Linked DNA regions of Homo sapiens. The protein of the gene in region 2 purifies or fractionates together with the protein of the main gene of each other region. This does not show direct contact. Each region holds a gene or a part of one and is shown on either strand. Other genes may lie near its edges.

The links.
Region 1: the proteins of OXNAD1 (region 2) and MMAB purify together in Homo sapiens (affinity purification with mass spectrometry; one large-scale study listed by BioGRID and IntAct). This does not show direct contact.

What each region holds. Positions count from the first base shown.
Region 1 is NC_000012.12:109,563,497-109,567,316, reverse strand, and holds part of MMAB (corrinoid adenosyltransferase MMAB precursor), read left to right. Parts: intron 1-149; exon of another isoform or gene 150-289; coding exon of another isoform or gene 290-306; intron 307-2,140; coding exon 2,141-2,198; intron 2,199-3,820. UniProt on the Homo sapiens protein: Converts cob(I)alamin to adenosylcobalamin (adenosylcob(III)alamin), a coenzyme for methylmalonyl-CoA mutase, therefore participates in the final step of the vitamin B12 conversion.
Region 2 is NC_000003.12:16,271,433-16,275,252, reverse strand, and holds part of OXNAD1 (oxidoreductase NAD-binding domain-containing protein 1 isoform 2 precursor), read right to left. Parts: intron 3,595-3,820; coding exon 3,531-3,594; intron 3,109-3,530; exon of another isoform or gene 3,034-3,108; coding exon of another isoform or gene 2,932-3,033; intron 395-2,931; exon of another isoform or gene 1-394.

The DNA.
Region 1 (3,820 bases), on a different chromosome or scaffold from region 2:
TCTGTCAAGTAGTCATCATGATAATTCCCATCTCACTGTTCTTGTGGGGCTTAAATGAGATGATTCCATGTTTCACCCTGAGGACAGTGCCTAGCACAAGTAAAAATAATGTTAGCTATTATCACTCTTCTTTTTTTTTTTTTTCCGAGACGGAGTTTCGCGCTTGTTGCCCAGACTGGAGTGCAATGGTGTGATCTCGGCTCACTGCAACCTCTGCCTCCCGGGTTCAAGCGAGTCTCCTCATTATTACTATTCTTAACACTTACCTGTTCCTGGCTACCATTTCTCCATGGCGGGCCTGACTAGGTGAGATTTTCGGGACAGATAATGGGAGGTACAGATAGTCAGCCAGCCGGGTAGAGAAGGCAAACAAACCCCTTGGTGTGTGTGGGAGGGGGTCCAGAAGAGGGCAGACACAAGACCAAGTGGGCAAAGGGAGAAAAGGCCAGTTCTCGCATCAGCTATTCTAATGAGCTCTAAAACACGAGCCATCGTCTCTCAGTTGAGGAGGAGCGGGAGGTTGGAGAAACCTCAGTTGTGGATTCTTCCTTGGTCAGATATTGACCAAGCATCTGCAGTGCGAGGCGCTGCTCAACAGAGAACCTCAGCCCCGCCTTCCTGAGCTGCAGAGTGCAGGGAGCAGAACCTCAGCCCCACCTTCCTGAGCTGCAGAGTGCAGGGAGCAGGCAGCACTCACTGGGCAGCTACGAGGGTGGGAGCAGGCTTGGGGCAAGTGCCCAGGGTGGGGCCTGCCACTGGCCTGGTCACGGGGCATCCCTCGGCAAGCAGGTACTTCTGCACACCTCCTGTGAGGCAGGCATGGGGCATCCGCTATGATGGAGACAGACTGTGTCCCAGCCTGCACAGCCCTCCCTTTGGTCCAGAGGGGAAGACACACCAGACGGGAATCACATACTGGTGTGTTTAGTTCTAACTGTAAGATGTGCCAGGAAGATGGGCTGGATATTCTCCATTGGCCCTTTCAAATCCCTTCTCTTCACCTTCTCTTTATGCATGGGAGGCTGACCTTATCACCTGGTGGCTGTGCCACCTCGATTCGTTGGTCTTCTGGCATTCAGGTGGGTCCAGCCAGTGGGAGGCACCAGTAGGTGATAGGAGAGTGAGTGCAGAGAGCTCATGAGTGTGTGTGACCCTGTTCCCCAGTGGTGCATGGCTCTGGTGGCAGCTGGGCTCCCTACCTAACTCCCTCCCTGCTGAGTGACTCCAGAATTCAGCTCCCTCCAGGGTGAGTTGTACCTTCCCCGACCCTTGCCCTTCAGGCTCCTGCATTTCCCTGAAACTCTGCCCATACCTCTGTGAATTGTCCCTTCCCAAAGCCCTCCTCCAGGAATCCCTGCAGCGCGCCACTGTCTCCTGCTGGGGCACTGACTGGTGCAGGAGGGAAGTGCAGGGTTCTGAGGGAGGCAGAGCCAGGGTCCTGACCTGTGTCGGGGGGCAGTTTGCTTTCTCTGCCTTATGAGGGAAGTCCTCCCCAGCCTTCAAAGTCTCCCCTCCAGCATCACCTCCTCCAGGAAGCCCTCCCTGCCTCTCTAGCCAAGGTCAGATTAGGCTTCTATTGCTCTTTCCTTCAGAGCACTGATCTCAGTTTGCACCTTCACATTCAGGAGTATGTCTAATCTGATTACCTATCACACTCCTGAATATCACGCTCCTGAACATGAAGGTGTAAGCTTTGCCTGAAGTCCCAGAGACACTCAGCAGCGGTGCAGAATTTGCACCTGGGTCTGTCTGGTTCCCACTCACCTATCACCACAGGGCTGCGGGTCAGAGCTCAGGATCCAGCACTTGAGACTGTCACTGCTCACCCTGTCACCAACTTGCTGGAGAGAGCCTGGGTCAGCTTCTGTTCACCACTGACTCTCCTGGGCCTGGCCAGAGTAGCTGTTCAAAAGGAATTCTTGACTGGAAATAATGAGCATCCGAAAAGGCATTTCAAGAAACAAATACCACCGCCCCCAAATGGAAGGCTATAATGTTCTTATTGTTAGCAAGAAAAATAACATGGCTATTATAGCTAAATTAACTAAATGGCCTGCCACCTGAGAATCTATTGTTTATGGCAAGACAGGGCCTAGGGACATTACATTACAGGCAAATTCTTTTTCCTTTTTCTTCATAGGTTTGCTCTGGAATTAGTCACAGAAAAGGGCCATACATTTGCCGAAGAGCTTCAGAAAGTGAGTAACACCATCTCACCCAAGCTGGGAATCTTCAGCCCCGGTGGCCATCACGGGACTCAGCATCCAGCCACCAGTTACTCTTTGTGTCACCTGGGGCTAGTTACTCTCCCTCTGTGAGCTCCATTTCTTCATCTGTAAAATGCGGACAGGCCAGGTATGGTGGCTCACACCTGCAATCTCAGCTACTTGGGAGACTGAGGCAGGAAGATCACTTGAGGCCAGGAGCCTAGGTAACATAATAAGACCCTGACTCTACAAAATATTTGAAAATTAGCCAGGCATAGTGGTGAATGCCTGTAGCCTTAGCTACTCAGGAAACTGAGGTAGGAGGATCTCTTGAGCCCAGGAGGTCAAGGCTGCAGTGAGCTGTGATCATGCCACTGCACTCCTGCCTGGGCAAGAGATTGAGACCCTGTCTCAGGCCGAGCACCATGGTTCAATTAAGCCTGTAATCCCAGCACTTTGGGCGGCCAAGGTGGGAGCATCACTTCAAGCCAGGAGTTCAAGACCAGCCTGGGCAACTTAGGGAGACCCTGTCTCTACAAAAAAAAAAAAAAATTAAAAATTAGCCAAGTATGGTGGCATGCACCCATAGTCCCAGCAACTTACAAGGCTGAGGTGGGAGAATCGCTTGAGTCTTACAGGTTGAGGCTGCAGTGAGATGTGATTACACCACTGCACTGTAGCCTGGGCAACAGAGTGGGATCCTGTCTTTAAAAAAAAAAAAAAAAAAAAACCTCTGTCTCCAAAACAAACAACTGGAGACATATAATCTTCCTTCACAGGCGAGTGGGGAGGATTGTACTAAATGAGGGAATTTAAAATGCAACGGTTCTCAACCCAGGGCCATTCTGCCCCTCAGGGCCCGCTGAGCAATATCTGGAGACATTTTTGGTTGCCACATCTGGGTGTTGGGGGTGTTGCTGGCATGTAAATATCCTGCAATGCAGGGGACAGCCCCCGTCAACGAAGAATGACCCGGCCTTGAATGGCAATAGCACCGAGGCTGAGAAAGCCGGTGTGAAGTGCCTCGCTCATGCCCGATGCAGAGGGAACCTGGGAAGCCTAGCTGCAGTGAGCCCTCAGCCCGTGGGACTCATGCGTCACAGTGTCACTGTTCTGTTCCCTAAGAAGGAGGGGGCCTCTGACCCACGCAGAGAACTTCAAGCACGGAGACAGGGTCACCACCCCAGAATGCCCAGGGTGCCGCACTTTCCACCTCCACATGGACCCAGGTCCCCAGAAACCGCTCCCCGCAGGGTCAGCCCTTCCCACTTCCGTTCTGAAGCCCAGGCTGGAGCCTGCTCAGGCCCCTGGGAACAGACGGAGGGTAGTAGGTGGGGCTGCCACAGGCTGTGGCTGCAGGAGGAAGCCTCAGCTGCCAGAACATTCTGTGTGGTGGAGGAAGGCTTTCAACCTCCTGAGGAGCCGCGGTAGCAGCGGTCATTTCTGTCTGCTGTACGCGTTGGGTCGCAGCTGTCACGTCACCTCCTCAAGGGCCTTCCCTGGCCACCTAATCTCCAGCTGGGTTAGGCACTGCTCCTGGATTTCCACATCCTCTAACCACAGGCATCACAAGGGGTGTTAACCTGTTCACCCATCCACCTCCCACCCAGCCT
Region 2 (3,820 bases):
CTAAAGAACATTTTTGGCAGAAAGTCTGTAAGCTACATTCTAAGATAACTCTTCCTGACCTACAAACAACAAACTATAGGTAGACTGAAGTCTTTGGAAGTTCTTATAAGACAGCCAAAGCAGGAAAACTGGCTATCTGAAGAAAATGTCAGATGATAAAAAACTGTTTTACAACAGGGGATGTCACTATGATACAGAGTAAAAAGGCTTTAAAGCTATGACTGTTTTATAAGCTTTCTCCAGCCAAATCAAACTTTATGTAAAGGGAACTTTTTCCTGTATAAAGTTCTGATCTTAAGGAACTATGAGAGTGCTCTAATGTTATCAACTGTATCCTGTTCTTAAAATGCTCATTTTTAGAAAAACTAGAGAGTTGTGCTGAAGAGAAAAAGTTTTATTAGTTGATAATTTTCCAAATTAAAGTTAAAATTCGGTGAATAAATGGTACGATTCGGTCATAACATGAAAGAACAAGGGCATGTTCAAAAGAACCTGAAACAGACGTCAGGTTCAGCAATCAGTCCTGGTTTCACCACTGGCATATATGGCTTGGGCAAGTTACTTATCAAGACTGAAGCTCAGTCCCTAATCTATAAAATATTTACTAGATCTCTAATAGTCTGTTTCTTTATAGTTCTTTCCCTTTTTCTTAAGATAATTTTGTTAGAACAGGTTTTCCCTAAGATTAGACATACTTTCATAATACTAGAAGTTGGCTAGAATTTGACATTAACTATTGCATTATCCTCAGTATTTACTGAATTCTGTGTTGCCTGACCTTTTGGCTATAGTTATGTATCTGTTACATAAAGGAAAATACACCTTTTATAATTTTATTCCAGTGGAACCAAACTAAGGAACTGCCCCTTAGCCGAGTTCTCAGGTGAGGTACTTCAAACTTGAAAGAATATGTATATCAGTACTTTATATGTCACTAACCATCATAATACATAGTCATTTAAGCTTAACATACTGTAGTTATAGTTATATTTATAAACCAAAAATTTTAATGAGGTTAATTTTAAATATATTTAAGTATATTTTAGAAATCATAGTTGATATCTTTTGTTTTTTTTTTTTTTTTTAGTGATAGTACAGTGATTTATTGGAAGGGGGAAAGCACACACCCAACAAAAGGGAGTGTGAGCGTACTCAGAGAGAGACGTGCCATTAGCATCTATTTCTTAATAGGTGTAACCTTTAAAGTATGTGCCTGCCTCATTTGTAAACCACAGAATACTGAATACTGTACATTCCCACTTATGTATATTTTATTAAAATTAATAAGCAAGAAATTATAGATAAGTGGTGATAACCTTAGGGAGATAAAGGTCTTTTATTAGGAAACAGAAATGATGGTGATATAAATAAAAATACTGTTTATATCCACACAAATTTGAAAAATGTAAAAGACTTTGTGGTAACAATAAAAATGTGAGAAATAGATATGTTTCCTTAGAATTGGCAGTCAACATAATTAAGTATGTTAATGCCTATGATGGATGCTGTGCAAGTTCCTATTAGTCCGATTCTTAGTCTTTTCATCTGTTAAAAAGAAAATACTGGCCAGGTGTGGTGGCTCATGCCTGTAATCCCAGCACTTTGGGAGGCCAAAGAGAAGGGATCACTTGAGGCCAGGAGTTCAAGACCAGCCTGGGCAACACAGCAAGACCATCTTTACAAAAAATTAAAAATTAGCTGAGCACAATAGTGTGCCTGTAGTCCTCGCTAATCAGGAGGCTTAGGCAGGAGGATCAGTCGAGCTTGGGAGACAGAAGCTGCTGTGAGCCATGACTGTACCCCTGTACCCACTGCACTCCAGCCTGGGTGACAGAGCAAGACTCTGTCTCAAAAAAAAAAAAAAAAAACAAGAAAATACTATTAACTATCTATCTATCTTACCTGTCTTAAAATATTATTATGTATCTTACGGCATAGTTTTGAGAATTCTGTAAGGTAAGAAACAAGTTTTTGGTCCTGGAAAACAGGAGGTGCTCAGTAAATATCAGTTGACGCTAAACAGTAAATAATATACTAATTGTTTGTAAATGCTTGATGATTCTTTTTTGCTTATATTTCACTTAGTTTCTGCAGGCTATTAAAATTAATTGGTCTTGTAAAATAAAATTCTGAAATGAATACTCTAATTCAGGGACTAGCAAATTATTACCTGCAGGCCAAATCTGGGTGTTTGGTAAATGAAATTTGTATACATACTGTCTATGGCTCTTTTCACATTATAAAATCAAAGATTAGAAGTTGTAATTAAGACAGCACGGCCCAAAAAATCTAAAGTATTTACTATCTGGCCTTCTAGGGAAAGATTTTCAACCTCTGCTCTAATTCTACCAGCCTCAAAATACAACAGGAAAGAGCCTGTAAGATAAATCACTTTTTTTTTTCATAATTTGCAAGGCCTTCATTTTATAAAAAGAAATCCTAACAAGTCTCACATTTACAGAATCAGCATTTTTGGTCACTTGAACAAACCAAAAAAAAAGTATTTTCAGATTTATTATTGGAAAAAGTGTACTTCCCCACAAGCTCCTAAATCTACTATGCTAAACTAATTTTACAGACTTCTCAAAAAAAAAAAAAAAAAAAAGAACTTTAAGCTGAATCAACAAACACATTACCCTTAGTCCCAAAGTAACTTTCTGAAAGAAGTTAGCCTTAAAAGTAGGGCCTAAACAATATGCCTTTACATTAAAGTGTATCCTTCTATTAATAGATAAATTTAAATGAGACAATATAATTTCTGCCCATGTTTGTAGAAGTATATAATCCTTCTTTACATGAAATAGTTTTTTTATTGTTAGCTTACATATACTTATAACACTAAGCTAAATATATCTGAGTAAGTGATAAACATTCAAAAAAGCAAAATCAAATATCCGATTTATGTTTTTAAACAAAAATGGGGTTACTCACTGAGGTAAAGGGTGAGGATCCTTTATTTCTCAGCCCTTGACACCCCTTCAGGTGGTAGATTAGCTTTCTATAGTCTGAATATGGTGGAAAAAATCTGTACATTAGAAGGGTAACAAGAGCTCGTCCACTTTCCTTTCTCAGATGTTAGTGCTTTCTCCCTTGATGAAATAAGTTGCTCTAAAGCAGGAATGAGAACAAGAACTTTGAGATGTGACGCAAAAAAAAAAAAAAGACCCCACACAAAAAAACAGAGAAAGGTAAGCTATTCATAAAATGTAGGCTTTAAAGGAAGTTCTAGTGCTAAAACATAACCCTAAACATCATACCTGTGAGGATGGCTCCCTCAGTTGCTGCTCTACTTGCTTCATCAAAAGGTAATCCATTCATTCCAAGTTTAAAGGGAAAAATTTGAGTATCTGTCATCTTTTCAAATCAGATATCAAATGTCCTGCTCAGAAAATTTCTAAATAGAAAAATAACAAACTTCCCAACTCTCCTTCAAAAGGACCAGACTCATCTAATGCTTTACCCATAAGCCAGTCATAACCACATGTAAACGGTCTAGCTGGAAAAACCTGTCATACCCCAAAGATACAAACCTCCCGTCGAAGGACACTTGCAGTTCTCTCCATGTGATCAGTTTTCCTTTTGGATTTCATTATGCTTTAATAGAAAGTAAAATTAGGTTATTACATATTATCCTCATAAAAATAATAAAATTAGTTTTTCCTGAAATATCATGGTTATCCTAAATACAGTGTAACATTACAGATCCTATAAAATGGCCAGTGAGTATCTGCCCGTCTAACTAAAGTTTTGGCCGGGCATGGTGGCTCATGCCTGTAATCTCAGCACTTTGGGAGGCCGAGGCAGGCAGATCATCTGACGT